7 separate regions of the Homo sapiens genome follow, and regions 1, 2, 3, 4, 5 and 6 are each linked to region 7. Evidence: fine-mapped expression QTL. Tissue or cell type: whole blood. Region 7 holds a variant in brackets; each other region holds the start of a gene. Each region is shown on its reference strand, or each on the opposite one. Region 1 holds the start of CD300LB (CD300 molecule like family member b). Region 2 holds the start of CEBPD (CCAAT enhancer binding protein delta). Region 3 holds the start of MCEMP1 (mast cell expressed membrane protein 1). Region 4 holds the start of TREM1 (triggering receptor expressed on myeloid cells 1). Region 5 holds the start of IRAG1 (inositol 1,4,5-triphosphate receptor associated 1). Region 6 holds the start of STK40 (serine/threonine kinase 40). Region 7 has its middle 84 kb from the start of IKZF1.

What was found. PIP is the estimated chance that this variant, and not a neighbour inherited with it, causes the effect. A credible set is the group of variants that fine-mapping cannot tell apart.
Region 1: CD300LB starts here. The variant in region 7 is the best candidate, but not a certain one, in a credible set for the expression of CD300LB in whole blood (TOPMed, PIP 0.78).
Region 2: it holds the start of CEBPD, and the variant in region 7 is the best candidate, but not a certain one, in a credible set for the expression of CEBPD in whole blood (TOPMed, PIP 0.85).
Region 3: MCEMP1 starts here. The variant in region 7 is the best candidate, but not a certain one, in a credible set for the expression of MCEMP1 in whole blood (TOPMed, PIP 0.83).
Region 4: it holds the start of TREM1, and the variant in region 7 is the best candidate, but not a certain one, in a credible set for the expression of TREM1 in whole blood (TOPMed, PIP 0.83).
Region 5: it holds the start of IRAG1, and the variant in region 7 is the best candidate, but not a certain one, in a credible set for the expression of IRAG1 in whole blood (TOPMed, PIP 0.84).
Region 6: STK40 starts here. The variant in region 7 is the best candidate, but not a certain one, in a credible set for the expression of STK40 in whole blood (TOPMed, PIP 0.85).

The regions. Positions count from the first base shown.
Region 1 is chr17:74,529,505-74,533,872 of GRCh38, reverse strand. CD300LB (CD300 molecule like family member b) reads left to right here and starts at 2,398. Exons shown (of 4, transcript NM_174892.4): 1 at 2,398-2,562. The coding sequence starts at 2,523. LOC107985074 (a long non-coding RNA gene) reads right to left here. Exons shown (of 3, transcript XR_007065902.1): 2 at 1,232-1,326.
Region 2 is chr8:47,735,986-47,740,353 of GRCh38, reverse strand. It overlaps CEBPD (CCAAT enhancer binding protein delta), which reads left to right and starts at 2,190. Exons shown (of 1, transcript NM_005195.4): 1 at 2,190-3,441. The coding sequence starts at 2,234. The coding sequence ends at 3,043. SPIDR (scaffold protein involved in DNA repair) reads right to left here. Exons shown (of 20, transcript NM_001080394.4): 20 at 4,048-4,368. RefSeq lists silencers at 1,362-1,831, 1,922-2,001, 2,042-2,151, 2,642-2,831 and an enhancer at 2,228-3,166.
Region 3 is chr19:7,674,973-7,679,175 of GRCh38, reverse strand. It overlaps MCEMP1 (mast cell expressed membrane protein 1), which reads right to left and starts at 2,086. Exons shown (of 7, transcript NM_174918.3): 1 at 2,001-2,086; 2 at 1,450-1,539; 3 at 935-1,072; 4 at 776-826; 5 at 572-685; 6 at 193-252; 7 at 1-78. The coding sequence starts at 2,055. The coding sequence ends at 62. RefSeq lists an enhancer at 1,050-1,119.
Region 4 is chr6:41,284,363-41,288,730 of GRCh38, reverse strand. TREM1 (triggering receptor expressed on myeloid cells 1) reads left to right here and starts at 2,049. Exons shown (of 4, transcript NM_018643.5): 1 at 2,049-2,124. The coding sequence starts at 2,076. RefSeq lists a silencer at 1-64.
Region 5 is chr11:10,691,250-10,695,617 of GRCh38, reverse strand. IRAG1 (inositol 1,4,5-triphosphate receptor associated 1) reads left to right here and starts at 1,863. Exons shown (of 21, transcript NM_130385.4): 1 at 1,863-2,082. The coding sequence starts at 2,016.
Region 6 is chr1:36,384,106-36,388,473 of GRCh38, reverse strand. STK40 (serine/threonine kinase 40) reads left to right here and starts at 2,550. Exons shown (of 11, transcript NM_001282547.2): 1 at 2,550-2,751. It overlaps LOC124904012 (a long non-coding RNA gene), which reads right to left and starts at 2,283. Exons shown (of 2, transcript XR_007065779.1): 1 at 2,147-2,283; 2 at 1-2,055. RefSeq lists enhancers at 1,703-2,072, 2,103-2,212, 1,037-2,236 and silencers at 2,443-2,822, 2,973-3,042, 3,343-3,392.
Region 7 is chr7:50,218,925-50,223,292 of GRCh38, reverse strand. No RefSeq gene overlaps it. Among named protein-coding and RNA genes, the nearest start is that of IKZF1, 84 kb to the left of the region's middle. The variant C/T (reference allele first, on the strand shown) is at 2,075.

The DNA.
Region 1 (4,368 bases), not on the chromosome of region 7:
ATTAAGTACCATCTTAATCGGAGACAGAATAGGTGCCTTAAAGGAATGTAGGAACCGAATGGCCATTTTCCTGCCAATGGGACAATATTGAGACTAAAATTTGGCTATGGAAGACTTCTTAACTCCTAACTGCTAAAGGCAGAACTTTCCCATTTCAAGAAGAGGCCTAGAGCCTGATTTCTTTTTCTTTTTTCTTTTCTTGTTCTTTCTTTCTCTCTCTCTCTCTCTTTCCTTTTCTTTTCTTTTCTTTTTTTTGAGACCGAGTCTTGCTCTGTTGCCCAGGCTGGAGTGCAGTGGCGCGATCTCGGCTCACTGCAAGCTCTGCCTGCCGGGTTCACGCCATTCTCCTGCCTCAGCCTCCCGAGTAGCTGGGACTACAGGCGCCCGCCACCACGCCTGGCTAATTTTTTTTTGTATTTTTAGTAGAGACGGGGTTTCACTGTGTTAGCCAGGATGGTCTCGATCTCCCGACCTCATGATCTGCCCGCCTCGGCCTCCCAAAGTGCTGGGATTACAGGCATGAGCCACCGCGCCTGGCCGAGCCTGATTTCTAATCATGCAAAAAGAAGCTGCGGTTTGCCATGAAAAAATATGCTTTATGTAGAGGATTTCTATTTCTACTAGGTGGCACTGTTGGCTTAGAAATACTATGTGCTCACTAGAGACGTGGTAGTGAGTAACCTCACGGTGGGAGAAAGGGGAGAACTCTGTTCCTAGAAGATTGCAAGGGCATCTTCCTGATTTTGCCTAACAGGATTACTTTCCTAGGCTGTAAAACTCGCTACACATTTCACACAAAGAAAGTGTAAGAGACCGCAGATAGAGAAGGAAGGAGAGTTTTGTGACAAGATAGTTGAGGATTCTTTGCCAACACCCAGAATGGGCCGCCAGAGGCTGGGTCCAGTCCAGGGGCCTTTGAATCATGCCAGGGTGTGCTCTGGCCAGAAATTGTTAGTTGCCTTAGAACTTTTCCCAGCCTTGCACAATGGCGAGGTCTTCCCGTGAAAAGAAGCTGATTTAAAACATGGCCAACATTCCCAATGACCCAGGGGTGTTGGGGGGTTCTCCGTGTTCTCAGCAGCAAGCCTCACATTCGAGTCTTCAGTATGGCAGCCAACACTAAGTGTATGTACCCGGCTGACGGATGCCCATTGACTTATTTTATTTTAAAATAGAGGCTAAGAGTGCCTCGGAATGATAGAAGAGATTTTAAGCTCACTCCCATACTTACCACTCCGATGAGTGTCGTACCTTGGATTCCCGGCCAATGCAACAAAATGGTATGGCTCTGATGACTGGAGGAACACTAGGGTCCTTGGTCTCCCACTGGTTTGAATAAAACAACATGGGCACACGTGGAGTGGTTTTAAGGAGTGGAGAATTTAATAGACAAGAAAGAAGGAAGGAAGAGGCTCCCCCTGTTCTGAGACTGAGGGAGGCGGGCTCCAAGCTGAAAGAGGGAACCTCGAGTACGGTGGAAAACAGCCAGTTATATGAGGAGGCTGGAGGAGGCGGTACCTGATTTGCATAGGGCCCAGGGGATTGGTTTGACCAGGTATGTCATTCAAGTAGCCCACGAAAAAACTAGCCTTCCTACCCTAGCCTTTTAATATGCAAATACAGGCGCCATGATGTTCTACACACATGGGTGTATGTAGGGGCGGCCATGTTGCCAGGAACGTGGGGAAAAGAAGAAGAGGCGGGAGTCTCCATGTTTGGGTGGACGCAGTTTCTAATGGCCTGTATTTGCATATCAAAGCTTGCCTGCCCAGCTCTAAGAGCCAGGGCTTTTCTTCTAGACAAGAAACATTTATGGAGCTGCTTTAAAAGAAAAAAAAATCTTCCCAAGCACCCCTTTTCCTATCTACCTAAAATAATTTCTTAATAACTCCTATAACAACAACAAACATTATGAGCCCAGTTAATAGATACAATAACTGAGGCACAGAGATGTTGATTGCATTGTCCACAGTCACGCAGCTTGTAGGTGGTGCTCGTGGGGTTAGAGCCAGGTCTGTCTGACCCAACAGTCTGCATGTTTATGCACTTGGCTATAACACCTGAACAAATGCATGTTCAGGTGTGCCCAGCATGACCCATCCGACATCTGAGTTGGGTGTTCACTGTGGTATAGAACAGCTCTGAAATTGACTCCCAGAGTGTTATACCCCTTGGACCCAAGGCCTGCTAGGCCAGACGCCCCCCACCCCACCCCTTCTGCAGACGTATCTCCCCCTACCCTAAAGACCCTGCACAGTCCCCTCCCTCCTCTTTTTTACATAGTGACGATGCTTAAGCCCTGTGGCGCAGCCCTGCCAAAAAATGACACCTCTTTCGTTTAATAATTAAAAGCAGGAACTACCCACTCTATAAAAGGAAGTGAATGAGTAAGAAAGTCAAAGGCGGTCTAGATGTGCAGAAGGTGCAAGCCAGAGCTCAGGCAGAACTTCCAGAGTGCATCTGGGATCTGCATTTGCCACTGGTTGCAGATCAGGCGGACGAGGAGCCGGGAAGGCAGAGCCATGTGGCTGCCCCCTGCTCTGCTCCTTCTCAGCCTCTCAGGTGAGTGGGGCTGGGGCCTTGGGCGCTTGGTATGACAGGGGCAGGGCAGGAGGCAGAGGGCATTTGTCCTTCCACATCCAGGGAAATGAGAGGTGGCTTTGTGAAGTCATTCGACAAAGGTGCACTGGGGACTGACATCGTGTGCTTCGGGGCCTGAGGACATCAAGAAAAAAGAGGAGGAGAACTGGCCATTAAAGAAGACTCCAGGCTTGAGGCCATGGCTCACACCTATAATCCTAACACTTTGGGAGGCCAAGGTGGGAGGATTGCTTGAGTCCAGGCGTTTAAGACCAGTTTGGGCAACATGGTGAGACCTCGTCTCTATATAAAATGAACAAAAATTAGCTGGGCGTGGTGACCGTGCCTGTAGTCCCAGCTACTTGGGAGGCTGAAGCTGGAGGATCCTTTGAGCTCAGGTATTCAATTCTGCAGAGTTATGATCGCACCACAGCACTCCAGCCTGGGTGATACAGTGGGACCTTGTCTCAAAAAAAAAATAAAGTAAAAAGACTCCAGATGGCTTAGTGGGTGAGACATACACATAAACAATGAGCAATTGCAGGACACAATAAGGCATTGGTGGAGGCGTGTGCGGAGGATGAAGCAGTTCTCTCTGGTGACTAGAGAAAGACTCACGAAGCTGTGCACTTGATGTGCCTTGTAGAAGGAAGGTCAGTCTCTGGAGCAGAGCTGAGAGGAGAACACTCTAGAGAGTTGGGTGTGTGTGTGTGTGTGTGTGTGTGTGTGTGTGTGTGTGTGTTGGGGGACCTGGGCAGAGAGATGGAGGCTTAGAAAGAATGGTGGATTCATGCAGAGGGAGCTGTCAGTGTGCAGGATGTCTTGGAGGTGGCGAGTTGGATATGAGGTTGGAAACACAAAAGACAAGATTATGAAGGCCATCCACGCCAGGCTCAGGAGCTGAGACTTTCAAAGAAAAAACTTCTCAAGAACCCAGGTGGAAAGTGGGAAGGGCTAGATGATCTTCTCCATGGCAAACCTTGGTGGACACCTAGAGGGCATTAGGGGACAATCTAGAATTTTACGCAGGGTGTGCAATGTGTGTGGGCCACACAGTTTTCTGCTGGTGCCTAGGGACTGACCATCTGGCACAGATAGAGCAGTCCACGGAGGGACAACAGGAAAGAGCATGGCTGGGGAGTTCTGAGACCCGACTCCAGTCCTGGCTGGACTTCCACCCTTCAGCCCGTTCAACGGGGCTCTGCTCCAAGCTGACGGCTGCCCTGTCATTTCCATCTCTATCGTTCCTCATACCAACTCTTGACAACATATAGAAGCCTGATTAATAGTTCCAGCCATCATATTCTGTGGTTAGAGAAACCCCCAAATATTTTTTTAAACGGGACTAATTACATCGTGAGCCATTTACAGTTTGAATGACTGAAGCTGGGATTGATGACACTTTGTTCAATGCAGCAGCATCTCTTTTCTGCTGTTAGTGATTGCTGACAAATCCAATTTATGTTTTTGGGTATTTTGTTTTTGTTTTTGTTTTTTGTTTTTGAGACGGAGTTTCACTCTGTCACCCAGGTTGGAGTGCAGTGGTGCAACCTTGGCTCACTGCAACCTCCGCCTCCCAGGTTCGAGTGATTCTTCTGCCTCAGTCTCCCAAGAAGCTGGGATTAAGGTGCCTGCCACCATGCCTGGCTAATTTTTGTAATTTTAGTAGAGACAGGATTTCACCATGTTGGTGAGGTTGGTCTTGAACTCCTGACCTCAGGTGATCCACCCACCTTGGCCTCCCAAAGTGCGGGAATACAGGCATGAGCCACCGTGCCCGGCCCCGAA
Region 2 (4,368 bases), not on the chromosome of region 7:
GAGATCGCGCCACTGCACTCAAGCCTGGCGACAGAGCAAGACTCCGTCTCAAAAATAAAGATAAAAATAAAAATAAAATGTAACTATATTGACTATCGGAATCAGTAAATCATCTCACTGAAAATAGTCTCTGAGTTGTTTTTAGGAGGATATGGTTATCCCTTATAAATATTGATTTTGCATTCCCTAAGTGATTAGGGAGGGCTTTAATAGTGTTTCTATGGCTTCTGAAATATATGAGAACAAAACAATTTGTGCTAGAACTTTTTCTGGATGTGCGTAAGTCCACACTCTATGCATTGCTGGATTTCAGTCTTAATAGGTAATTAATTGTGTGACATCATCATTGTGTACCCTCTGAGTAACTCTAAAGAAATATGTTTGTTCTTTAGGAAACCTATTAAATATCCCATAGTGCAACGTTAGAAATGACCTCTGGAACTGACTGCAGAAACTGCACAGCAGTTAGTAGAGCTTGGTGTTCCGACGCAGATCTGGTGAGAGGCCTGCGCAGGAAGAGACTCGACATGGAGCAGGTGTGACTAGCGATAGTGATTTAATGGATTTGGGCCCGACATGGTGGCTCACGCCTGTAATCCCAGCACTTTGGGAGGCTGAGGCCGGCGAATCTCTTAAGCCCAGGAGTTTGAAACCAGCCTGGACAATATTGTGAGATCCCATCTCAATTTTTTTTTTGAGATGGAGTCTCGCTCTGTCGCCCAGGCTGGAGTGCAATGGAACGATCTCGGCTCACTGCAACCTCCGCCTCCCGGGTTCAAGCGATTCTCCTGCCTCAGCCTCCCGAGTAGCTGGGATTACAGGCGCACGCCACTACGCTTGGCTAATTTTTGTATTTTTAGTAGAAATGGGGTTTCACCATGTTGACCAGGCTGGTTTCAAACTCCTGACCTCAAGTGATCCGCCCACCTCAGCCTCCCAAAATGCTGGGATTACCGGCATGAGCCACTGTGCTCGGCTGAAAAAAACCATATTTTTAATTTAAAATAATAAATGGGTCTGACCAGAAATGCCTGCCTCAAATTGCAGGACACATGACAAAGCCCATTCTTACTTAAGACATTTTCAGTGTGCGATGGGTCTACCGGGATGTAACCCCATCGTGAGTCGAGGCCCATCTGCACCCTGCTATAGCTACTGGTAGATCTTACCTGTTTCCCAAAAAGGACCCAACTACTTTAGGTTCAAGGCACTTTTTTGGAATATTTAACAGGGAAAGAGCCTGGAACTAAAAACAGGTCTAACGCAAGATGCCGCCACACGATGGCACTGCTTCCGTAGACCTGGAAGAAACGCGGGCGCGGGAGCTGGCGGCGGACGCCCGGGTCTGCGGGGTCGGGGAGTAGCGTCCGGCCGGAGAGCCCGCACCTCGAGGAGCCGGCGGAGGACGCGGTGTCGTGACCGCGTCTCCCCCATCTGCTCTGCTTTTGGCGACAGCGTCCCGTCGGCCTTTCGGCCAGGACGCAGCAGCCGCGTCTCTGGGCCTCGACCCCCAGGGCCGGCCGGACCCGGGACCTCCGAGGAGAGCAGCGAGAACCGGCCCGGATTCCCCGAGGCGCCCGAGTGCGGTGCGGGCAGCCCTCCCCGCCTGCCAGGCCGCCGCTGTCCCCACGTCTGGTCCCCCACGCCTCTTCCCGCATCTGGTCCCACGGTGGAGGCGCGGGGCGAGGGCCTCACGCGCGTGCCCACGGTCGGGGGGCGTCCTTGGACGCGCGGGTCCTCTCCCACGGGTCTCCACCCCCCGCCCTCCGGCGACAGGAGCCGGCCTGGGACGCGCGCGCTGCGGCCAAGTCCTGGTTTTGATTTCACTCCCAACCCCGAGGAGCGAGGAGGTTCCAAGCCCACAAACAGGAAGAAGAGAAGGCCCTGGAGTGCTGGCAGAGGGAGTGTCATTCCCAGCAGCGCAGCGCAGGCCGGCCCGGGCCGGGGAGGGAGCAGCAGCGCGGGCACCCTCCTGCAACGTGGGCTGGGGGTCCCCAGGGCCGGGGAGGGGGCCCCGGGGAGGAACTGAGAGGGGGCGCGCCCCGGGAAGGCTCGGGGCGGCTCCGGGGGGCTCCCAGGGCGCCCCCGCCCCTTCCCCCGCGGCCCCGGGGCGCCCCCGCGGTGCCGGAGTCGGGGCGGGGCGTGCACGTCAGCCGGGGCTAGAAAAGGCGGCGGGGCTGGGCCCAGCGAGGTGACAGCCTCGCTTGGACGCAGAGCCCGGCCCGACGCCGCCATGAGCGCCGCGCTCTTCAGCCTGGACGGCCCGGCGCGCGGCGCGCCCTGGCCTGCGGAGCCTGCGCCCTTCTACGAACCGGGCCGGGCGGGCAAGCCGGGCCGCGGGGCCGAGCCAGGGGCCCTAGGCGAGCCAGGCGCCGCCGCCCCCGCCATGTACGACGACGAGAGCGCCATCGACTTCAGCGCCTACATCGACTCCATGGCCGCCGTGCCCACCCTGGAGCTGTGCCACGACGAGCTCTTCGCCGACCTCTTCAACAGCAATCACAAGGCGGGCGGCGCGGGGCCCCTGGAGCTTCTTCCCGGCGGCCCCGCGCGCCCCTTGGGCCCGGGCCCTGCCGCTCCCCGCCTGCTCAAGCGCGAGCCCGACTGGGGCGACGGCGACGCGCCCGGCTCGCTGTTGCCCGCGCAGGTGGCCGCGTGCGCACAGACCGTGGTGAGCTTGGCGGCCGCAGGGCAGCCCACCCCGCCCACGTCGCCGGAGCCGCCGCGCAGCAGCCCCAGGCAGACCCCCGCGCCCGGCCCCGCCCGGGAGAAGAGCGCCGGCAAGAGGGGCCCGGACCGCGGCAGCCCCGAGTACCGGCAGCGGCGCGAGCGCAACAACATCGCCGTGCGCAAGAGCCGCGACAAGGCCAAGCGGCGCAACCAGGAGATGCAGCAGAAGTTGGTGGAGCTGTCGGCTGAGAACGAGAAGCTGCACCAGCGCGTGGAGCAGCTCACGCGGGACCTGGCCGGCCTCCGGCAGTTCTTCAAGCAGCTGCCCAGCCCGCCCTTCCTGCCGGCCGCCGGGACAGCAGACTGCCGGTAACGCGCGGCCGGGGCGGGAGAGACTCAGCAACGACCCATACCTCAGACCCGACGGCCCGGAGCGGAGCGCGCCCTGCCCTGGCGCAGCCAGAGCCGCCGGGTGCCCGCTGCAGTTTCTTGGGACATAGGAGCGCAAAGAAGCTACAGCCTGGACTTACCACCACTAAACTGCGAGAGAAGCTAAACGTGTTTATTTTCCCTTAAATTATTTTTGTAATGGTAGCTTTTTCTACATCTTACTCCTGTTGATGCAGCTAAGGTACATTTGTAAAAAGAAAAAAAACCAGACTTTTCAGACAAACCCTTTGTATTGTAGATAAGAGGAAAAGACTGAGCATGCTCACTTTTTTATATTAATTTTTACAGTATTTGTAAGAATAAAGCAGCATTTGAAATCGCCCCTGCTTCCTATATTCGCAGTGACTCCCGCCCGCCCGCCGGTGGCGCAGGACCCGGCTCGGGAAGGGTGCGTTCCGGACCCGCAGCCAGCGAGCACCAGGGAGCCCGGGCGCCAGGTGTGTGTGTGGGGGGGGCGGGGGGATGGGGCGCAGGCCCGAGCTACTCAGGAGAGAGGGTCTGTCGCTTTTAAAACGCATTAAAGGCTCTCTCCTGGCCTTATTTAACTTGCCTAAGCTAGGTGGAGCACGGCTGAGCTCAGGTAAGCTAGCAGCTTTCCAGCAGAAGGTGTTCTCCCGAAGAACGCAGACCTGGGGAAGGGTTGACTTTTTGGGGGCCCCTGCTGAGAACAGTTCAAGAGCTCCCTAACTGTAGAGGCTGCTGGAGGGGCGAGGGGCAGAACCCCGGGCTGAATCATCTCCCGCTTTCCCGGGACTTTGCTTTCACTTTCCTCAGTCTTGTGGACAGAGTCAAGTAGATTTTCAAAAGTGCTCCAGAAAGGCCGGAATAGTCATGTAGTGGATGAAAAGGGCAGTCACAAAACTGCTTAAGACCAGCTGTCTTGCCAGTAATTGCAGTGCTTTAAGATTTAATTAAAAAGCCGCCTGCCTTTAACCCAAGAACACTTGGTATTAGGGCACCATGTCTTGGTCACGGCTGCTACGTGTATCTGATGTAGTTAACCATGGCCTGTCATGATTATATTGCTATAAGGAAGGGAACAAAATCTTTATAGTGTCCAAAGATAATTAATTCTTGGTTTAAATCTTTGCCAGCAAAGCAAATATCCGACTGACTGCTCCTTAGTCTGTGATCTTTGCTCTCCGTGCACATTACCCAGCCTAATTAAAACAGGTGTGTGTGGTGGAGCCAGCTATCCCCACCACCATTCAGCAGAGACACGATCACACCAGTTCAGAGAGCTACACT
Region 3 (4,203 bases), not on the chromosome of region 7:
CGTTGGCAGGTGCAGCCCCATCTTCCAAGTTGTGGCTTTGGCTGCCACAATGTCCTCTCATTTATTGAGGTGAGGACTCTGGGGATGGGGAGAGACCCACAGTGAGGCAGATCCCGCCCCTGGGAGAGGAGCTGGGGCTAAATCTGAAGCCCCACCCACCCTCCTCCACCTCCTGTCGGGGCGCCAACTTACGTGGCATTTTCTGCAGCACCTCCAAGATTTTCTGTACCTTTGTGTCAATGTTTTTTATGCCTAGGGGGCGGGGAGGGTTGGGTGGGAACAGATAAGTCAAGCTGCGGTGGAGCCTCAAACAAAGCCCCCACCTTCCTTGGAAGCACCCCCCCTGCCCCACACCCACCCTGGGGTACAGCAGAGCCCATGGATTTGGGGTTCCCAGGAGCCTTTCAATACCCACAGAGCAACCCAGATGGTAACACCCATCGCCCCTCCACAACTTGAGCTTTGGGAGGGTAGGACCCCGGCTTTCTCCTCCCCTGAATCCCCTGCCCCCAGCTCAGCTCCGGGCATTGGTGACAAATAACCCCCATAGAAGGCGAGACTACACAGGCACCTGCTAATGTCGTCTCTAATCTATCAATCTTGCTCCTGACCATGGTGATGCTCTGCTGAACGGAATCCCAGCCTCTCTTCTGTCTCTCTTCGCATGCTTGTACGGAGTTTGAGACTGAGGGCATGAAACAGGGGTGTCTGTGCATCCATCCCTCTCCAGACCCCCACCATGACCCCACGGGTCTCCCTCAGACCCTCCGCTCACCATTCCAAAGCTCCCTTTTAAAGCCCAGCAGCTCCTTGGACATCTCAGCATCTGTTCAGGAGGGGCAGGAAAATCCTTGAAGCACCCAGGGAGAGAGAGAGAGAAGGACAAGGGAGAAAGTCTAGGCCCCCCAGCACCCTCCTCCCAAGAAGTACTCACTCTTCACCATGATGAAGGCTGACAGGATGATGCAGAGGACAAAGGCCAGGGCCAGGAGGATGTACAGGCTCAGGATGGCTCTGTACAACCAGCAGGGGACCTGGGTGGAGTCTGAGGGCGGCCTGCACTGGGCTGGGACTGGAGCAAAGAGGCAGCAAAGTGACCTTGAGGGGCCAGCACCACCACTCAAACCATCCTCACTGTCTCTAACACCATGGACACCTCGCTCCTCTCAAAACCATCAGCAGCTGTGGTCATGCAGCTTGTCATCATCGTCAACAACACTGCCACCACCAGCCACCCTCAGCGATCTAACACCGTCACCATCACAGACCCCCTCTCCAGCATTCCCCAACATTGTCATCATCAACAGACCTCATTAGCACGTCAACAGCTGTCACCTCTTCCTTCCCCATCGCTTCCTCCCTTCCACGCAGCCCCGGGGGCCCTGCAGTTGCCCGCCCACCTGCCCCTTCCCAAGGTGATGGGATGTGAGCAGGTGGGTGTCTGCTCACCTTGGCTCGTGGGTCGTGAATGACCACCCTTTGCATGGTCCTGATTTTTGAAGGCCAAGGTGATATTCTCATAGTCTGGGTCATGGGCACCTGGGAGGGGTTGGAGATCTGCTCAGAGCTCTGTGGTGTGGAGAGTGGATCCGGGATCTTGTTTTACCCAACCCTTTGCACTCAATAAATTGTAGGGGGTGAAAGATAAGGAGTGAGAAGCTAAAATCTGCTTTTTGGTTAAGTGGAGCGGGTGTGTGAGAGTTTGAGTGATCACACCACACACACATCCACACACACATCCACACATCTTGGAGGGGAAGGAGCCCCCGGCCCCCACCTTTGACCCCTTACCTCTCCCATCTGAACTCTCCTTCTTTTTTTATTTTTATTTTTTACAGACAGAGTCTCCCTATGTTGCCCAGGCCAGTCTCCACCTCCAGGGCTCACGCAATCCTCCCGCCTCAGCCTCCCAAAGTGCTAGGATTACAGACATGAGCAAAAGCCCCCGGCCCCCCAATCTCTCCTTCTTAACCCCTCCCTTCCACCTCGAGTTCCCTAACCTTGATTCTTGGCTGAGACCCCCTGTTTCTTGTCCCTGAAGGCTGGTGCTTGCATCTTGACTTCCTGGTGCTTGTAGATTTCCTCCACTTCCATGGTCCCCAGCCCGCAAATTTGTCCATACACGTCCCCGCCCACCGGAAGGTGTGGGCAGATGAGGAAATCTGGAGGTGGGGGGAAGAAAGAGGGGGAGCAGCCTCCTCTTTTCAGGGATCCACGACTCTCGCACCCTGGGGCACCCTCATTCCTGCCCCGATCAAGAGGCTCTTGGGAGCCAAGAGGTCTCAGGAAGGACCAAGAAGAAAAACCTCTAGACCGGGAGATGGAATTCGACACTCGGAAATGTTACAGGAAGCTGTGGTCTCTGTGTGTGTCTGTGTCTACCTGGATGGACCTCACCCTCCTACCTCCTCTCCATTTCAAAAGAGAAGCTGTGACACCTCAGTGTCCCAACTTTTCGCGTAAGAGCAACCAGGCTTGGAGACAGGACCCCTGGGTCCCCCCACACCTTCCTCCCTCCAGCCTCAGCTCCACCCCTCAGCTCCACCCCCAAGAAGTTCTTCTACTTCTACAAGTCCCCGTGGAGGAAAAGCACAGATGTGAGGCAACGGGAACTAACCACTGGAACGCCACACCCACATCTGGGACTGAGGACAGACCCACATCCTTCCCTCCCTCCCCAAATCCCCTGCTTTTATACAACCCTGGAGGAGGCTGGGTGCGGTGGCTCACGCCTGTAATCCCAGCACTCTGGGAGGCTGAGGTGGGTGGATCATCTGAGGTCAGGAGTTTGAAACCAGCCTGGCTAACATGGTGAAACCCCGTCTCTACTAAAAATACAAAAATTAGCTGGGCGTGGTGGCGAGCGCCTGTAATCCTAGCTACTCAGGAGGCTGAGGCAGGAGAATCGCTTAAACCTGGGAGGCGGAGGCTGCAGTGAGCGGAGATCACACCATTGCACTCCAGAATGGGTGACAAGAGGGAAACTCTGTCTCAAAAAAGAACCCTGGAGGAACAGTTTCCTCTGCACCTGGAAACTCCAGGTTTCTCATTCTCATCCATCCATCTGCTTATCTACCCAGATACTCTCTCTCACACATGTACACACACAGGTCTGCACACGGACACACATCACAAACTCATTTGCATACTATTTGCATTGTGACACTCAGAAAAATAGACACAAGCATGCGTTCACATGCCCGCACTCTGTCTAGAAGGTGTCTTAGTTCACTTTGTGTTTATCTGATCTTGAAAACTGGGGTTACAAAAGGCACAAAGTAGCTGGGTATGGTGGCTCGCTCTGTAGTCCCAGCTACCCAGGAGGCTGAGGTAGGAGGATCATTTGAGGCCAGGAGTTTGAGACCAGCGTGAGCAACATAGCAAGACCCTGTCTCTTTAAATGTTTTTTAATAATTTTTTTTTGAGACAGGGTTTCACTCTGTTGCCCAGGCCGGGGTGCAGCAGCGTGATCATGGCTCACTGCAGCTTTGACCTCCCTGGCTCAAGTAATCCTTCGTCCTCGGCTTCCCGAGTAGCTGAAATTACAGGTGGGCACGACTTCACCTGGCTAATTTTTCTCCTTTTTTGAGATGGAGTTTTGTGCTTGTCACCCAGGCTGGAGTGCAATGACGCTATCTCAGCTCACTGCAACCTCCGCATCCCAGGTTCAAGTCATTCTCCTGCCTCAGCCTCCCAAGTAGCTGGGATTACAGGCATGCACCACCACCCCCGGCTAATTTTGTATTTTTAGTAGAGACGGGGTTTCCCCATGTTGGTCAGGCTGGTCTCGAACTCCTGACTTCACGTGATCTACCCGCCTTGGCCTCCCAAAGTGCTGGGATTACAAGCATCAGCCACCGTGGCCCAGTCTAATTTTTCTTATTTTTTGTAGAGATGAGGGTCTCAATATGCCGTCCAGGCTGGTCTTGATCTCCTGGGTTCAACTGATCCTCCAGCCTTGGTCTCCCAAAGTGCTGGGATTACAGGCATACATTTTTATTTTTATTTTTTTCTGGCCAGGTGTGGTGGCTCACGCCTGTAATCACAGCACTTTGGGAGTCTGAGGCGGGCGGATCACCTGAGGTCAGGAGTTAGAGACACCAGCCTGACCAATATGATAAAACCCTGTCTCTACTAAAAATGCAAAAATTAACTGGGCGTGGTGGCAGGCGCCTGTAATCTCAGCCACTCGGGAGGCTGAGA
Region 4 (4,368 bases), not on the chromosome of region 7:
GCTGTGCCATGTTAAGTTCGTGTAAGTGCACTCCATGATGTTCCTGCAACACAAAATCACCTAGCAACACATTTCTCAGAATGTATCTGTCATTAAGTGACACGTGACTATTTGCACTGTTGACCTCAAGTACACAAATAGATCAGACAAGTGGAGAAAGACCTCATTCTACTTCATTCTAATTTAAATGCAGGTGCTGTCCGTAGTTAGGAAAATGTGAAGGAGCAATCAGCCTCCAGTGATATTCAAGTCTAATTAAAAATTCTTCTTGGACTGTTTAGTTCAAAGCTCCCTCTTAATCTTCCAGGAGCTTAATCCTCCACACAAAGTATATGAAGACACAAAAATGTAGAAAGTATGTGAAATAGCTATTATTTAAGTGTGGAATATTAATTTTGTTGTAAGGAGGGGATTTATTCACTGAAATAAACTTTATTAATTTGACTCATCGCCACAGAAGTCACGTAGGCTCCTCTCTGAGTCAGAAAATGTCAAGAGCTTTCTGTCTATTTTTCCTCTTTAGGGACTGCTTGAGTACAGCAAAAGGAGGGGCCAGCAGATTTCAGTTCAAGCATGTTTGAAGCCTGTTTTCCGACATTATTTGTAGAACAAAAAATAAACATAGTAAAATCTCCACTACAAATGATCTCTATAAAGTGTAATAACATGATTTAAGTTTATGTATTATTTTCTATATTTTATAAATTGCTGCATTGAACAGCTTTAATAAAAAAAATTAAAGTTAGCCTTGAAAATTTTTTTGGTTGTTGTTTGTTTTAATTTACAGACATGATAGTACCTTTTAGCTGTTCCTATACTTGAGTAGCAATCAATTTGGGTGTAAAATATTAGGGTCATAATGTTCTTTATACCTCATCCCACTCTCTCATGGTATTTGTTACTCAGAGAAGAAATCTGAGTCCTGATTATTTCAATTCCTTTGAAGAAACCAAGTTATTTTTTTGTTTATTTAGCAGTAGGAATCTTTTTATTTAAATTTAAAAATTTTCACCTGGAAACTTCCTATTCTAGGTCTCACTTTGTGAATTTTTTCCTTGCCCATGTTGAACTCTCAACCTCCAATTTTAGATTTCTTCTCAGACCTGGAAAGCATATTTTTTAAGATAAAATTTTTAATCTTGCTTGTGATCCACCATTCCATTTTATGCTTTAAGGACATCTCTGATTTGTAGATTGGAATTCTGTGATTTGTCCTCCCTTAAATTTCTGAGCTCTTCTAAATGTCTTTATTCATTTCACATTTGGGAATATTTCTGAAGTGAATCCTCTCCATTATTGATTTGATTTTCACACTGTCAAATCTGTCTTTTCTTGCTTCTAGTACAAAACCTGCTGGATTTTTTCTTCTTGCTTCAGCGTCTTGAACCAAGTTTCCTTTTTAAATCTAAGTCTGTTCTTGTTGGGTGGTGGCAGTGTCCTCTCAAATTGTTTCTGGGGTCCCTACACCCCCGTGAGCTCCCAGGCCATGTCTGTGGCAATGCTGAAGGACAAATGCAGGGTGTGGCCCTCCTGGTGATGAAGAGGAGGTGCACCCCAGGTCACCAGAAGCCAAGAGAACCCACGGGGCTGAGCAGGGCAGGATGAAGCAACATGTTCTCACAAAAACCCTGAAGATGAGATACGATTGTCGCAGCCTCTCCCTATGTGGGCCTGACTCTCTTCACTACACTAAACTGGATGTGAATGGAGAGGGGGCCTCTGGAGAGCAAAGGGCCCTCTGTTCCCCTTCCTAATATGAATGCCTTACTTTGATTTACATTCAAGTATCATTCTCCCTTAGATTTTGTAAGGTTGAAAGGTAATTGTCATTATTACCACAGAAAGGAAAACTGGAGTTCAAAGAAACTTAACTGAGAAGTGAGTCTTGGTCTCTGTATTATTGTGTTGATGTCAGGAGTCAGAGCAACTGGTGATGAAACAGAACCCAAACTCAGTGACTCCCAGGAATGGCCTCATATCCTGTTGTGCAACTTTCCGAAGCCTCTAGGTCATTGTGGTGCCTTGTAGCTGTCCCGGGAGCCCTCAGCAGCAGTTGGAGCTGGTGCACAGGAAGGATGAGGAAGACCAGGCTCTGGGGGCTGCTGTGGATGCTCTTTGTCTCAGGTAAGACAAGGAAGAGGACTGAGCAGGGGAGGCGTTTGGTCCAGGATCTCGGGGAGCCCTTTTCTGTTGAAGCTTCAGAGCACAGGGCCATCCAAGATAGAGCCAACCAGTAGTTATGGCAGACCGTGCTGCTCTACCCAGAATTGGGAGAACATGCAGTGTCTGCACACAAAAGTAAAAGAAGGAGAGAGTCAGGGAAAAAAGATGTCTGTGCATGTCGATGTTGTTAGAGACATGCAAAGCCTAGTATGGGAATAATGATAGAGTAGATCTCATCATGGCATGATCTACAATAAGTTTATTTGATGTTGAAATTTTTTTCTTATATTCCATCATGATGTGTTTGATGTTGACAATCTGTTAAACCCAAAAGACAGAATTGATTTAACAAATATTTCCCAGGGGTCTACTATGGGACAGCAAATATACTACTGCTGAGGACACAGACGTGACCAGAAGAGGCTGGTGCTCATTTTGGTGGAGGTGATCATCCCAGCTCTCCATGGCACGCTGGGGTTGGAGGGCACAGTTGCTGAGGCTCAGCAGAGCCGGCGCATGCCCCAGCTCTTTCTTGTGTCTCCTCTTACGATCCGCACAGCTCACATCTGCACCCAAACCAGAAGCATGCGGGCTTTATTCACTCCTCCTCCTAATCCTTATGAATAACAGGAGGAAAGTGTCAATATGAGTTAAAAGCGAGGCTTGCCTTGGGAAGGCATGAAAAATCAGGGAGAGGTATCCTCCTGGGCTCTCTACTTTGAGCAAAGTCATGGACAACTGCCTTGAAGAGCCTGTGCTCAGACATTGCTCTGGGTCTTCTTGGAGCTGGGGTGATAATCTAGATGGGCAGAAGGGAGTTAGCTCCTCATGGACAAGTGCATTTCCTTGTGTTTGATTCATGTTTTTCTGAAGGAGAACTGGGAGATGGCAGAGGGCTGAAGGTTATGTACCTGTGTGAGAGAAAACCAGTGGTATATATTTCATTGTGCCCTGTGGGGATAGGTTAGGGGTTAACCTCAATGCTCCTTGCAACTGGATACTTATTCACACTTGGGCCAGGACTTCTCTAATCCCTATCAGACTGTGTTGGACCATGTAGCTCAGTGCTTTAGGTGGAACCAGAGTCCTTGGGTTTGAATCCTGGCTCTAGTACTTAACTATGGTGAGACTTTGGGCAAATCACTTAATCTGTCTGTGCCTCAGTTTCCTTATCTATAAAATGGGGAGAATAATGGTGTCAACTTTTTACTTTATAAAGATTAAATAAGATAGTCTTTAAAAACCCTTAGCACATAATACTTAATAGGTAGTATTTGCTACCCTTTTAATTAACATATTCAAAGGAATTCCCTTCTTGCAATTGTGCACAGACAGCTCAGCAGCCTTCATTTCTTATTGTCTCCTTCCTTCTGTGAGAGACAGGCAAGTTTGCAAACTCAGTCACCTGTAACTCCCACCTTCCCTGGGGAGCTGGCAAATAAAAGAGATTTATCTGTAACATTAACTTCAGAGGTTAGGGCTTCAGTGGTGGCAACTTGAGGATGGAGTCTGTGTGTCTTCCAAAGAGCCCAGCACAGTGCCTATGATAGAGAAGTCTCCCAGCCAGTCTGATGAGTGAGTGAACAAATGAGGGAACCAGGCTTGGTTTCAGACAACACTCAGCCTCTGGTCAACAGTCTCTTGGAGGCACATTCCTGACTGGAGTGTGTGGGAGTTGCCCAAGAGGTCTGTTTCCGAGGTTTCCCTAGAAACTGGAGTCTGCTCCCAGAAGAACTGGCTTTCAAGACTGATTTCACCTTTAAACTCCTTGTGAGTCCCTGAGTTGAGTCTTCCTAAGGTCAGGCAGATCTGTTGGCCTATCCTGGGGTGGGCATGCCAGGGGGCTCCATGAAAGGGTAAGCACTTGTCATTTTTCACCAGGCCTGCAAGGACCTAAGTGTGTGGTATTAATAACAGCAGTACTAGTGTTACCGTGACCCACACAGTAGACCCAGCAGCACTGTCTAGCCTGTTATTTGGTGCTCCATGGGGGAAGGTACCCCAGGCCTGAGTGGGTAAGCTACAGTCTCTCAGCAAACTTAGAGAGCCCTGTGTGTCCAGCTGAAAACACGGACCTTGGTCTTCTCACTTCCGCTCTGCTTGGCCTCCCATCAGCAAGGCTCCCTTGGACAAGGCCAGATGAGCATCCCCAATTCTAGATGGTTAACCCAGTTCGGACTCCAAGAATGTGATGGAAACTATTGT
Region 5 (4,368 bases), not on the chromosome of region 7:
CAGTGCTGTCACTTATTTACTGGCTGTGGAACATCAAGCAAGTTGTTTTACTTCTTCCAGCCTCAGTTTCCTTTTGAAGGAAAGGCGTAGACACTTGTGAGGATAGAGTGCTTTTATGTAAATCATCTAATCTAATGCTAGGAATATAGTAGGTACTCAATATGATATATGATTTTGAACTCTCTCTCTCTCTCTCTCACACACACACACACACACACACACACACACACACAGCCAGCCCTAAGTTCCATTTCAACTTCTGATTTTGATTGTCCCTGTAGTGCCTGCTGCTGGACTCACAAGATCAACCTTTGAAGCGACATTCCCTAATGTGGGATCCTTGGACCAAGTACATGAGAATCACCCAAGGGCCTTCACTAAAATGCAGATTTCTGGGTCTATGTCAGATCCATAGAATTAGAATTTCTGAAAGAGGAACCCAAGGAGCTTCACACTTGGGGGTTCTAATGCACATTGAAGTTGGAGAAACAGCACTGAAGAGTTTGGTCAGTTCCTTCTAGACCATATACTTGCAATTCTAGTAGTTACCACCATGTGGCTTTGTGGGGGACGGGGGTTGTGGGGGGAGCCTGTACCTCCATGTGGACAGGTGTGGACACTTGAGAGAAAGCATGGCTAGTACCCAAGACAGCCTCCTCTGGTTTCATTTACAAAAAACAATTATTGATGAGGGTAGCGGACTTCATGCGCTGCACCCCTGTTAGTGATCTCTCTTACAACAACCACACAGAAGAGACAGGACTTCCTGAGAACCACATGCCTGAGGAAGGTGCTGGGATGGAGGCTCAGTGGGCCAGGCTCAGTGGAGAGCATCTGCCACTGCTGCACAACTGATCTGTGGCCAGGAGCTGAGCATAAGGACTGTGTTTGCCAGGAGAGCTTGAGGCCATAGGCCTGGGAGCTCCAATCCCTAGTGCTCTCTACCATGACTACTGAATGTTTTCTGGGTGGCTAATGATGGCCAAAAGCTAGGGTTCCCGGATTTATCAAACAAAAATAGAGGATGACTAATTAAATTTGAATTTCAGATAAATAACAGTCTTTAATACAAGTATGTCCTGTGTTTATCTGAAATCCAAATTTAAATGGGTGTCCTGTAATTTATCTAGCAACTTTACCTAGGGTTTCTCTGTGCTGCTCTAACCACAGAAGGGGCTGAAGTCCCCATGTGGCTTGCCCCCAGCTTGGAGCTCCATGATCCTGGCCTTGGGTAGGCCCTATACCCAAGGCAGGTGAAGAGTGTGTATGGACAGGGTATGGATTTCCTGGGCAGGGGCAGGAAGCTCATTCATACTGATCTAGCTCTTATGAGATGCTGGCAGTGTGTTAAACACTTGACTAACATCTCATTTAATCCCCTGACTACCTAGTGAGTCGGGCATTATCATTATTATTTCCACTTTAGAGATGAGGAGACTGAGGCTCCACGATGTTAAGACCACAGGCTGTTTAATGGAGGAGCAAGGTTGACATCCCTGGGGCTGGTGCCAAGTCTGGGAGTAGCTGAATCTCCCAGGCCATTCTCTCTGGCAATCCCAAGAGTTTAACGCAGTGGGAGCAGCCCCTGCCCCCGAATCCCCAGGACAGGAACCATTCCCAGTTTCTCTTGGCGCTGGCCCAGGGTCTTCTCCAGGCTCACATGCTTGCTGGAGGCTCCAGGCGGGTGGGGAGATCTGCAGGGTCCCTTTGTTCCCGTCCGGCCAGGACAGTGTCCAGTGGCACGAGTTGCCATGGGGACTGCCATCTGCTGTGTGGATACCCATCGGAGGGGCCCAGGGTGAGCGACTGCCCCAAAGGCCCAGCCTGCCCTGAGCCCTGAGGCCAGCTGGTCGGCTTTCCCTGCCATTATCCCCCGAGCCAGGCCGGAGTGGGGCTCCCAGAGGAGCTCTCGGCTCTAAGTCCCAGCCCCTCTCAGAGGAGGCGTGCGGCCGAGGTTCTGCAGCCAGAGGCTTCTCGGCTCTGAGCTCCGGAGCCAGATGTAACATTGACCTTAAATGGTAAAAGCTCCCCAGAGTGAAGAGAGGCTGGCCAGAGGAGGAAAGGAGAATAACTCAGTTTTAGGTAAGCCTCCCCTATATCCTAGAATAACCTGCCTCTTCGGCTGGGAAGCGGAGGGAACCTTCTCTTCCTTAAAGGTACAGGGTGCTGGGATGGGGGTGCTAAACTTTAACTTTCCAGGGGAGCTGGCTTTGTTGGGTGGCATTTCAGCTGAGTATCTTTATTGTTGCTGTCTTAAGTTTTAAATCAGAAGTGAATCTTGCCAGTCCTAACTTAACTAGATTGTGCTCCTTTTGCTTGCCGTTGGAAAGTGTGCACAGCTCAGGGTGAAAATGTGGGTCCTGACAGGCGATTGCAACCCCTAGCTTTCCTGTGGGCCCCTTTGTGGCAACAGTGGGGTCTTCAGCTTTGGCAAGTCTGCTAAGCAGAGCTTTCTCCCCTCTGTGCTTCCTGTGTCTCTCTCTCTGTCCCCCTACGCCCCTCTGCCTTGAACCTGGGCTGGCATGACCTGTCTAGATCCTTAAGCCTGCCTCTATTTCTGTCTCTGCCCTTCCCATCCTGTGTTCTTGTCACAGTCCCTGTTTTTATCTCTGTCCCTGTCTCCTCTTTTGTCTCCAGCTTCCCCTGGCCTGTGCCCTTCCCTGCTCCCTAGAGGGGGTGTATGTGCCCGGCCCGTGCCCGGCCCTGCTCACCTCCAGGGCTCCGAGTTGAAGCGATTCCTAGAGTGAGCACCATTTGAACTGGCTTTTTCCAAAGGAAAAGCCAGTGGAAGCCAGAGGCCAGAGAGAGGCCCAGCTGTCTTGCTCCCTCCTGCCCAGGAAACAGTTGTAAAGGCTATAGAGGCTCTGCAGTTTGAGTAAACAGCAGCCCGGGGTCTGGGACCCCTGGCCAGCACTCCAGCCTCCCAGAGCTCGGCAGCTGCTGAACACTCTTCAGGCTGCTCACTGGGGTGGCACAGGGAAGTAAATCTGGTCTGAGCAGAGTCTTTTGCAGGGAAAAGGAGGAAGCTTCCTGGGACTGTGAGGCTGGGGGTCCAAAGGAGTCAGGACCTGCCAAGGATTGTATTGCCCCCACCGAGGGACGATGACATGCTAGTGAGGCAGGTGGAGTTGCCCATCCCCCTGCACTCCCCTACCCCAACAGTTCTATGGGGGAGGGAACTCAGGTTAAGTGACTTGCCTAAGGTCGTTCCACCAAGATGGAGCGGAGCTAGGACTCAAACCCTGTATGAGTTTGTATGACTCTAACTCCAGTGCCCATGCCTCTCAACACAGACGTGAATGCCAGGGTATGATGCTGCCTCCAATTGTGTCTTGCGATTTTTGACCTAATGGACAAAACAGTTGTCATTATCATGTTTGTACTGTCCATGATTCCATAGTGCGTGTATGTGTGTGTGTGTGCATGCATATTTGGTGGGTGGCTGTTTATATTCACAGCGGATGCACCTATCTTTATGCTTGGAGGTAAGGGAGGCATTCCTGTATCCTTTATCATCTTGGAGGGATAACCATGTGCTAGCTGCTACTACATGATTGGTTATCCCCATAAATATATTTCTGAAAGAAAATAAACAGCAAACACATGGTTCTTACTATGTATTGAACACTGTTCCCCTTCCCATACAGTAACTCATGACTCCCACAGCTCTACAAAGCAGGGGTCATTCTTTCCACCCTGGTCTTGTAGAGGAGGACACTTTAGCACAGAGAGACTGCACAGCTGATGCTCAGCCCCAGGCCATGGTCTCTGGAGGCTCTGCTCTTGACCTCCATGGTCAGCTCCCGTCTGCTTGGGACCCCATGTCAGAGTGCAGCGGGGGAATCACCGGCCCCCTTGCAACATGGTGCATCTGAGGCTTTCCACGAGGGATTTCACATGCCCCCTCACAGAATGCCATGGGGGATGTATCTTTACCTTACTGCTCCAGGTGAGGACAGTGGGGCTAGGGGATGTTAAATGACTCGTCCAAGCTCACCCAGCCACCAAGTGACAAAGCAGGGAATTTAAATAGTATCTTGGGTGAGGAAGTTAGGGCCATGTGAAACCTACTTGAAACTGAATCCCTGGGAGGCTGAGGAGGCTCATGGTTTGGGGATGAGGAGTTCTGTGGGTCTGTGTGAGGAAGCTAGGTTCCTTGACTGATGGGCTGAACTATACGTGATGGGTCCTCAGCTTTCTAAAAAGCCCTGCCTTTCTCCTCTAAGTCTTTGTAACAGAGGTGGACAGAAGCACCCCACACCTCCTGGAGGAGCAGACTGAGCCCTGCAAGGGCGGAGACCTTATCCCGTTCCTCACCCGTTGTGTGTCTAGCACCCAGAATGCCGGGAGCACACGAAGTGCTCAGGT
Region 6 (4,368 bases), not on the chromosome of region 7:
GCTAATTTTTGTATTTTCAGTAGAGACGGGGTTTTGCCATGTTAGCCAGGCTGGTCTCGAACTCCTGACCTCAGACAATCCACCCACCTCGGCCTCCCAAAGTGCTGGGATTACAGGAGTGAGCCACTGCGCCCAGCCCTGAAAGTAATCTTATTATATCATTATAAAAACCCCATATATTAATAGCACCATTTTACATTTGAGCAAACCGGCTCAAGGAAGTTATGTGGCCTGCTCAAGGTGAACAACAGAATGGGGATTTGAACTCAGGTCTGTGTGACTCCAACTCAATGATCTTAACTGCTGTGCTATTCTGTTTCCCAGCACTCTTGGCATCATACTGATGACAGAGTATAAGAGGTGCCTTTGTTCACCACAGTGGTGGTACCTAGCCACAGGGTGTAGGTCTGACACTCAAAATTTGCCAGATTTAGGCCTTGCGATTTGGTGACAAAGAGAAGCCAGAGCCAACCAGTAATGGAGACGAGGGTTCAGAAGCCTGAGGAAGCCCCTGGGGGTTGAAGGTCTCTTTCCCTCCTTCTGTGATAGGCAGATCTGCCTATACCTTGTCAAGCCACCATCTCATGCTGTTGTGACAGGCGTCACTTTGTTATGGCAGCACCGTCTGCCGTAAGCCTAGAGTTGGAGAGCCAGCAAGAGTATGTCAGCGTGAGTGTGAGTGTGTGTGTGTGTGTGTGTGTGTGTCCCAGCGTTCTCCTCATGGTAGTGTCCTGATGACAGTTTCTCATTTCCTCTGGCTGGCACCTTTGGTTTCTATTCATTACTTCTTCTCCTCCTAGCTTTCTGTTCCTCCTCCTCTCCTTTGTTAAAATCCTGGATTTTCAATCAGCTGAGAGTCTCCTGGGGGTAGGAATGGTGGTGTCAGCGCAGAGTGATTCATCTAGCTGATAATTAGAGCTCTGGAAAACCCAGAACTCATTTTTGTCAGAGTCAGGGCTTCCGGAATCCCTAGGCTTTTTGTTTTGTCAGAGAGTGGAGCTTGCTGGGCTGGGGCCTTCTTTATGCCTGTCTTTTGGTCACCCACCTCATTGAAGCCCTTCAACTGAGATGAGTATGAGTGCTCGCTGGGTCTTGCAAAAAGCTGTTTCTATAACTCCGAGTCCTCACAGTGATCCCCCAAGCGTTATCCCTGTTTGGACAGAAGGGGAAGATTGGGCAATTTGCACATAGTCACCCAGCTTGTAAGTGATGCAGCAGGGATTCAAAGCCAAGTTTTTTGGAATCCATCAGACTTGATTTGAATCCTAGCCCTGCCATTATTAGCTGTGTGTGTTTGGGCACATTAATTTCCTTCTCTGAGCACTGGCTTCCTCAGCTGTAAACAGCCTCCTACCTAATACTGTCTCAAGTGCTCCATGCAGAGTGTGGCACAACGGTGGGAGCTGTCCTGATTACTCTTGTTAGTCAGCCCTATCAGCAGCTCAGTGGGCACCAGGCATTCAGAGACAAAGGACACAGGTAGAGGCAGCCAGACTTCACTCATATCAGCTCTTGTGTCCTGGCACTGCCTATGTGGAGATGACAAATGCACATACACACAAGTGGCCACACACCCTAGGAAAACCCAGCAGTGCACACAAGCTTAGACACGTGTGCCCACACATGGATATAGAGTGACCCAGGGGACAGCTGGAAAGACAGCCAAGAGTTAGACATCATAAGCAGCAAACACCCTGACTCACACCTCTGGGACAAGGGAGTGGGGCTACGGCCGCTGGTGCTGCTGCCACTGAGCCCTTCTAGCTGCTTCTGCATGCCAAGGGAGGGAAGCCAGGCTCTTAGAGGGCCCCAGTGAGTCACTTGCCTGATGCAATCCCTTTAAAGGGCTCATCTGCTGGTGCAAGAAGCTGATTCATGGAGGGCGTGGTTGCTGGAGGAGGAGGAGAAAGGGACCGAAACTGCAGCAGGAGGAACTGAGGTTAGATAGCTGTAGTCGCTAATAGGAACGCTTCACTGTAAACCTCCCTGGTCAAGGCTTCAGGGATCTCCAGGTTGAAGGTTGCCATCCTCGGGGTTTCTACAAAGGCGACAGACCTAGAGGGAAATGAATTATGAGCGCTGCGACAGGAATTTCTGTCTTTTATTGAGCCTAACTGCAGGGCTTTCCTCACAGAGTTCCACAAACCGGGAAATGAGGATCAAGGATGAGTCACTTTTCTGATAAATACACTACAATTGGCCGATCTTCCAACCGCTGGGGACTTCAACCTCGGCAGGGGGAGTGTAGGGCCCGCGAGGTTCTGTGGGGTCGGGCGGGGCGGTGCCTCCGTCCCAGCCTCGCCGCAGATATAGATCAGCAGTAAGTACCGCCCCATTAGAGCCTCGGCCTCCAATCGTGTAACAGGTTTCGCCCAGACCCCACCCTGAACCAATCCTCAATCGGACTCTGGCCTCTTGCCTGAAGTCTTCCGCCCATCGTCAAGATGGCGCCCCAATCCGAAAGCCGTGGGGCTGGAGACGCAGGCGGAGGGCGGGGCCCGGGGGGGCGGGGCCGCGGCTAAGGCTGGGGAGGAGGGGGGCGGTGCGTCACTTCCGTTGTCAGGTGGCGGCGCCGCAGCCATGGAGGGAGGCGGCGGCGGCGGCGGCGGCGGCTCGGGTGGCTGCGCTGGGAGGCGGCGGTGAGAGGCTCGCACGCCTCCAGCCCGGCCCCGGCCCCCCGGGAGGGAGAGCCGAGCAGCCCCGGCTCTGGGCTACGGACTATGGGCGAATAGCTCTGACCACCCGGCGAAGGTGAGGGCAGGGGTCCAGGAGCGGGGAGCCGGGTGGGGGTTGCGGGTAGGCGGGGCGGGCCCCGGCGGCCGCGGCGGTGGAATCGGAGTGACAGCCTGAAGCCATCTGAGTGCAGCAGAAATGGCCCCGGCGAATGCCCCCTCCTCCGCTGGGGCTCTGCCCTTCCCCGGCGGCAGGGGCGAGGGCTGCCTCGCGCCGGGTACCGGGAGGCCGCGGGAGCTTCAGTCCCCGCCGCAGCTCTGGGAAGTGGGCACTGCCAGCTTTGCCTAGAGTCACCCAGCCAGTGAGTGAAGCAACCGGCGTGTGAATCCAGCCAGATCTTTCCAAAAAGACACCTTCTGCCTCTCCGTGTTTCCCTCCTAATCCCGAGGGTGACTTGATAGTTAGAACGAGTCCCCAGGGAGGGCCAGCCAGGGCTTCCTCCAAGAGCCCTCACTCTGGCACGGGCGCTACCGCTGCTGGGGAATTTTCATATCCCGGGCGGCGTTCAGGTACGAGTCACAGCTACCTGCTTGCCAAGGCCACGTTTGGCCGGCCTTTTCCAAGGAGAGCTTGCTGTGGTCAGTGTTTCACCTGCCGAGCCGGTCAGGCCCGCCCATTCCCACGCCACTTGGCCCCGCCTTCCAGCCAGTTAGGTAGGGACATTCGGATTCCTGATGCCGAGTTTTCTGCCCACCCCAATCCCCAGGTTTGAAGCCCTTTTGTTAGCGGAAGGAAGAGATGACAGCCGCCCTCTGTGTGGCAGGATAGACTTTGCTCTGTTTTAAGTCACTGGAGGAAACCGGTTGGCTTTGCTTTGGTTTTGAGAACCAGTGGGGAAGAGGGTAGGCATACTGGGCTGGGCGCCTTTCCCTCTTTGAGTAGTTTTGCGTGAGATAAGGAAGAGCAGAATGTGTAATTGTAGGGCCAAAATAATCTTGTTTGTAAACAGTGCCTGTGAGCTCCTTTAGTGCTTCCTAATGGCCGTGCTGTGCAAGTTGTTGGTTGGGTTAATCTAGACAGTCCTCATTCATTCATTCATTCATTTCTCACATGACCACAACAAGAGTCCTTGCCTAGAGGCAAGTGCTAGACAGCATAGTGGTTAAGAGTAGGCTTTGGAGCCAGACTTCCTGAGTTCAAATTCTGGCTCAGCAACTTTCCAGCTGTGTGTACCTGGGCACATTGCTTAGTCTCCCTGTGCCTCAGTGTCTTCGTCTATAAAACAAGGATGATAACAGAGAGAGATATTATGAAGAGTAAAAAGTTAACATGTAAAACATACAACCATGTTTGCCACGTAATAAGAATTCAATAAATGTTATCTATTTTTATTTCAAGGAGCATACAGTCTAATTAAGGGAAATTGACCTGTAAACAAATGGTTGAAATGTGGTCTAAAGAAGCTAGTAGTGGCTGGGCGCCGTGGCTCATGCCTGTAATCCCAACACTTTGGGAAGCCGAGGCGGGCGGATCACCTGAGGTCAGGAGTTCGAGACCAGCCTGGCTAACATGGTGAAACCCCATCTCTACTGAAAATAGAAAAATTAGCTGGGCATGGTGGCACAGGCCTGTAATCCCAGCTACTCGGGAGGCTGAGGCAGGAGAATTGCTTGAACCTATGAGGCAGAGGTTGCA
Region 7 (4,368 bases):
AAAAAAAAAAAGAAAAAAAAGAACAACAACAAAAAAAGAAAATGAAAAGTGTGAGCATTTCAACTCTGTTCTTTCTCTTCAGGTTGGTTGGCTATTCAAGGTCCCTTGTAATTTCATGTGGGTTTCAGGATTGACTGTTCATTTTCTACAAAAAAGATTGATGAAATTTTGATAGGGATTGAGTCTATAGATCATCTTGGGGAGTATTTTCATTTTAATGGTATTAAATCTCTCAATCCATGAACATAGTATGTCTTCCTATTTATTGATGTCTCTTTTTTTAAATTAAGGTTTTGTGATTTTTCAGCATGGAAATATTGGTTCTTCTTTGTTAACTTTATTTCTATGTATTTTATTCTTTTGAATGGTATTGTAAATGAAATTTTTAAAACAACGTTCAAATTGTTTATTGCTCATGTATAGATTTGCAACTGATTTTTGCATATTGGTGTCATATCCTACAACCTTGCTGAACACATTTATTAATTCTATTTTTTTAGTGTGCTCTGTAGCATATTCTATATATAAGATCATGTCATCTGGAAATAAATATAGTTCTACTTCTTCTTTTCCAGTCGAAAAGCCTTTTATTTCCTTTGCCTGACTAATTTCTCTGGCTGGAACTTCCAGTACAATGTGGAATAGAAGCAGTGAGAATGAATATCTTTGTCTTATTCCTGATCTTAGGGGAAAACAATAAGTCATTTTCTATTAAATTAGCTGTGGATGTTTCATAGATGTCTTTTATTAGGCTCAGGAAATTTCCATTTTTTTCATAGCTTTTTGAGTGTTTTTATCATGAAGGGGGTTAGATTTTTGTCAAATGTCTTTTCTGCATTAATTTAGAGGATCATATGGTTTTATCATTTATTCTGTTGATATGTTATTTTACATTAATTAATTTTCAGATATTAAACCAACCTTGAATTCCTGGAATAAGTTCCACTTGGTATGCATACACATGGTATACAGTTTGTGTTATATGTTACTGGATTTGGCTTGCTAGTATTTTGTTGAAGGTTTTTATATCTATATTAATATGATATATTGATTTGTTTTCTTGTGATATCTTTGGTATCAATAGGAAGTTAAGAATTTATAAGCGGCAAGGAGTAGGGGCAGATTGGAAGTATTCCAAGTCTCCTAACTAACTAGGGAAAATGTTTCAAGTCACACAACAGTGCAAAAAGAGCAAGAAAGAGTATACTATGTTTTCTGTTTATCTTTGACACTTACATTTAGGGCTTCCTTAATCTATTTTATCCCATTTGTGAGCTTACTTATTGAATTGGCTAAAGAGACAGGAACAAAGCTTTATAGCCATGAGAGAACTGCTGTAATCTTGGTATCATGGATGGAATGTGCCTTTGAATAGACTTGATTTCTCTTACCTCTTTGTTTCTCTATATTTAAGGGATGAGCTATGAAAAGCCTATTAAAAATAACATGAGCCAGTCTCATTATGCTTGGCTGAACTTAGATTCCAGTAAATGTTTGTGGATTCCTTTTCTAATCACTACATTAACTGGAATTAATAACTGAGAAACAAAATACTACTACTCCCAATTTTTTTTAAGTTGTGAGTGTATGGCATTATTCATTTCATCTCCTCCCAGCAACTTGTGTTTATGCACACACACACACACACACACTCCCCTGCCCCATGCAGGTATGAATATGTGTGTATATGCATCTCTGTGCTTATATGATTAAACATGACTCTACTTTTGAACATTCAGTGAAAATTAAGAAATAATTCATACAGATGATATAGGATGGCTTAAGCCTAAAGCTATCATTCTGGGTTAAAAGTAAAATAGTACATGCAAATGAATTTCCTATCATAAGTTTCTTATTTCCAATTTTCACAGCAGCTCTGACATAGGTTTGAGGGCTGACATTTCATCCTTGGCTGTGCAAAGTTCCCAGATCATGACGGTTTGTTGCTGGGAGTCCAGAGCAGAACTGGAGGAAAGGTGCTTCCACTGCTTCTTCCCAGAGAGGGAGGGGCTGGGAGCTCCTTGCCACAGGCTGACCTCTGTCCCCTCCCTTGTTGAGCTGGTGGTTGCCCAGT[C/T]CCTGCAAGTGTTACCTCATTTCCTCTATTTGGAGGTCCTCCTCTACCTCTTCCCTAATTCATCTCCATGACGTGTCTCAAACTTTTTTGCATGAAGTTGTCACTAATTCACTTCACTCACTCGGATCACTCCTTTGGGCTCCTCTATCTTGAGATAGGTCAGATGCCATTTACAGAAGAAACTCCATCTCCAGCCACGTAATGAAGTAAAGAGATAGTCATAGGTGGTGCTTAGTCTCCCCACTGGGGTAAGAAAATGGAGGCTGGAGGAACCCACAGGGCAAGGATGCTGTCAGGGCAGGGGAGGCTGGGCACAAGTGTCCAAGAGCACAACAATCTCAATCTTGTTCAGGGAAAGTTGTCAGCTGTGGGAGTGGAAGTGGGGTAGGCAGGTGGTGATGGGATCCCAGTGGTAGATGGAGTGTAGACCCTGAGCATATTGGCTAAATGATGCCAAGCAGTATGGAACCACTTAAAAAAATGGTTCTTGGAGCCTTGCCACCTGGTAGGGTGTTCAGAAGCTGGACTTCAATATTGAAAGCAAGGCATTTGGAGGACTAAATGGAGACAGAAAAGGGCACTTAAAGTCCTTTCCATAGACTAGGGCATGCACAGGACAGGGAGAGTTGGTAATTGAGGCACAGAACAGGAGCTCCCTGGTTAGCCACGTAATAAGAGTGATGATATTAGGTTCTGCCTGTTGAATAGAGAGAAGGGGATGGTTGCAAAAGTTTAAGTAATTGCAACCTCAGTCAAAACAGATTCAGGAACTAACTGTGGGAGAGGCAGTGAGCATGTGGGTATGGGTGATCCCTTAACTGAATTGTAAGAAAGTAGTGGGAGAGATCCAGGGTGAGGAGGTTACAGTGCCATGCCAGGAAAGGAGACCTGCTGATTGGGCCACTCGGTAGTTAGGTGAGTAAGCCAGGTCAAGGGCTTACAATTTTTCAGAATAGAGAGGATCAATTTTGTAAGGGCATCTTGAAGTGATCACATTCTCAGAAACAAGCCCATGGTAGTCAAACTCACATGATGCCAAATTATAATCCAAAAATAATCCTTTTGTGAATTTACCATAAGAATCATTTCTTTCTATTGATATTGACATATGTGACCCAGGGTACCACTTCCAAATCAGTAACTATTAGGATATGATTGGAGCACAGGATGGTGAAAACTCCCAGAACACTTCTAGGTACTATTCAGGTCTCTTTAATGCCAGTGTGGGCCCAGTCCCAAATTTGACAAGCATCACTCATGGCTTTCTTCTCCTCCCTTTTCTAATTCAGATTCTTTCTACCACCACCCTCTCCTCAGGTCTGTCTCTATCATTGATGGCACTACTCTTTCTTCATTTGATTTATGTGTGGTCTTATTCTCTCTTGCTTTGATTTAGGAGATACTGCTTTTCTAAAGACCACCACAGAATGCCACTTTCTGCATTGCTTGAAAATTCTGGTAACTGAACTTAGAAGCTCATCTTAGGTGTAAGAACAAACTCTTTTAACTTCTCTCTGTGGGCCAAACAGGCAAAATGAGACAGCCTGTGTCCTTCCAACATTTTAGATCCTTAGTCATTCTGATGAATGAGTGGATGGAGAGATGGACGAAGAGCTCACAAACTCAGAAACAACCAGAGGTGTAACATCTACTAGTCTTTTTGTCTTTCATGAAATCTCACCTTCTCATTATTTTCCTTATCTGTTTGATTATCACAATTGAGCACTTATTCCTAAGCACTATTGCTTATTATGCCTCTTAGGGTTTCTACTCCAGAGACACACAGCCTCTTCCTGACCTGGGAATGTACCACCACTTGGTGCTGAATTGTGACCCCAAAGTGCTCAAGGACCCTCCCCAGGAAGGCAGAACACATGCTTAAACCTGGGACTCTTGAGAAAATGCACATTCTGATTCTGTACATCTGAAGTGGGGCACGAGGATCTGATTTCTACCAAGTTTCCAGGTGGCACAGGTGCCACTTGTTCCTGGACCTTGAGTAACAAGGCCCAAGTGGTAAAATCAAGGGCTTGGAGCTTAACTCTCCTGAGTTGGAATCCCATTTTCCTCCATTATCAGCTTCATGACCTTAGACAAATTCTTCAACTTCTCTGAGCCTCAGTTTTGTTTCTGAGCATGGGGTTGCCACTTGGTTGCCAGGTTCTTGTGAGGATGGAGGTCACGTATGTTCAGTGCCTCTGCCAGTGTGTGCCACCTACAGCCCTCACAAGGCCCTTCCCTTCAAGCCCCATCTGAGTCCCTCCTCCACCCAACGTCTGGCTTCTCTATCTGGA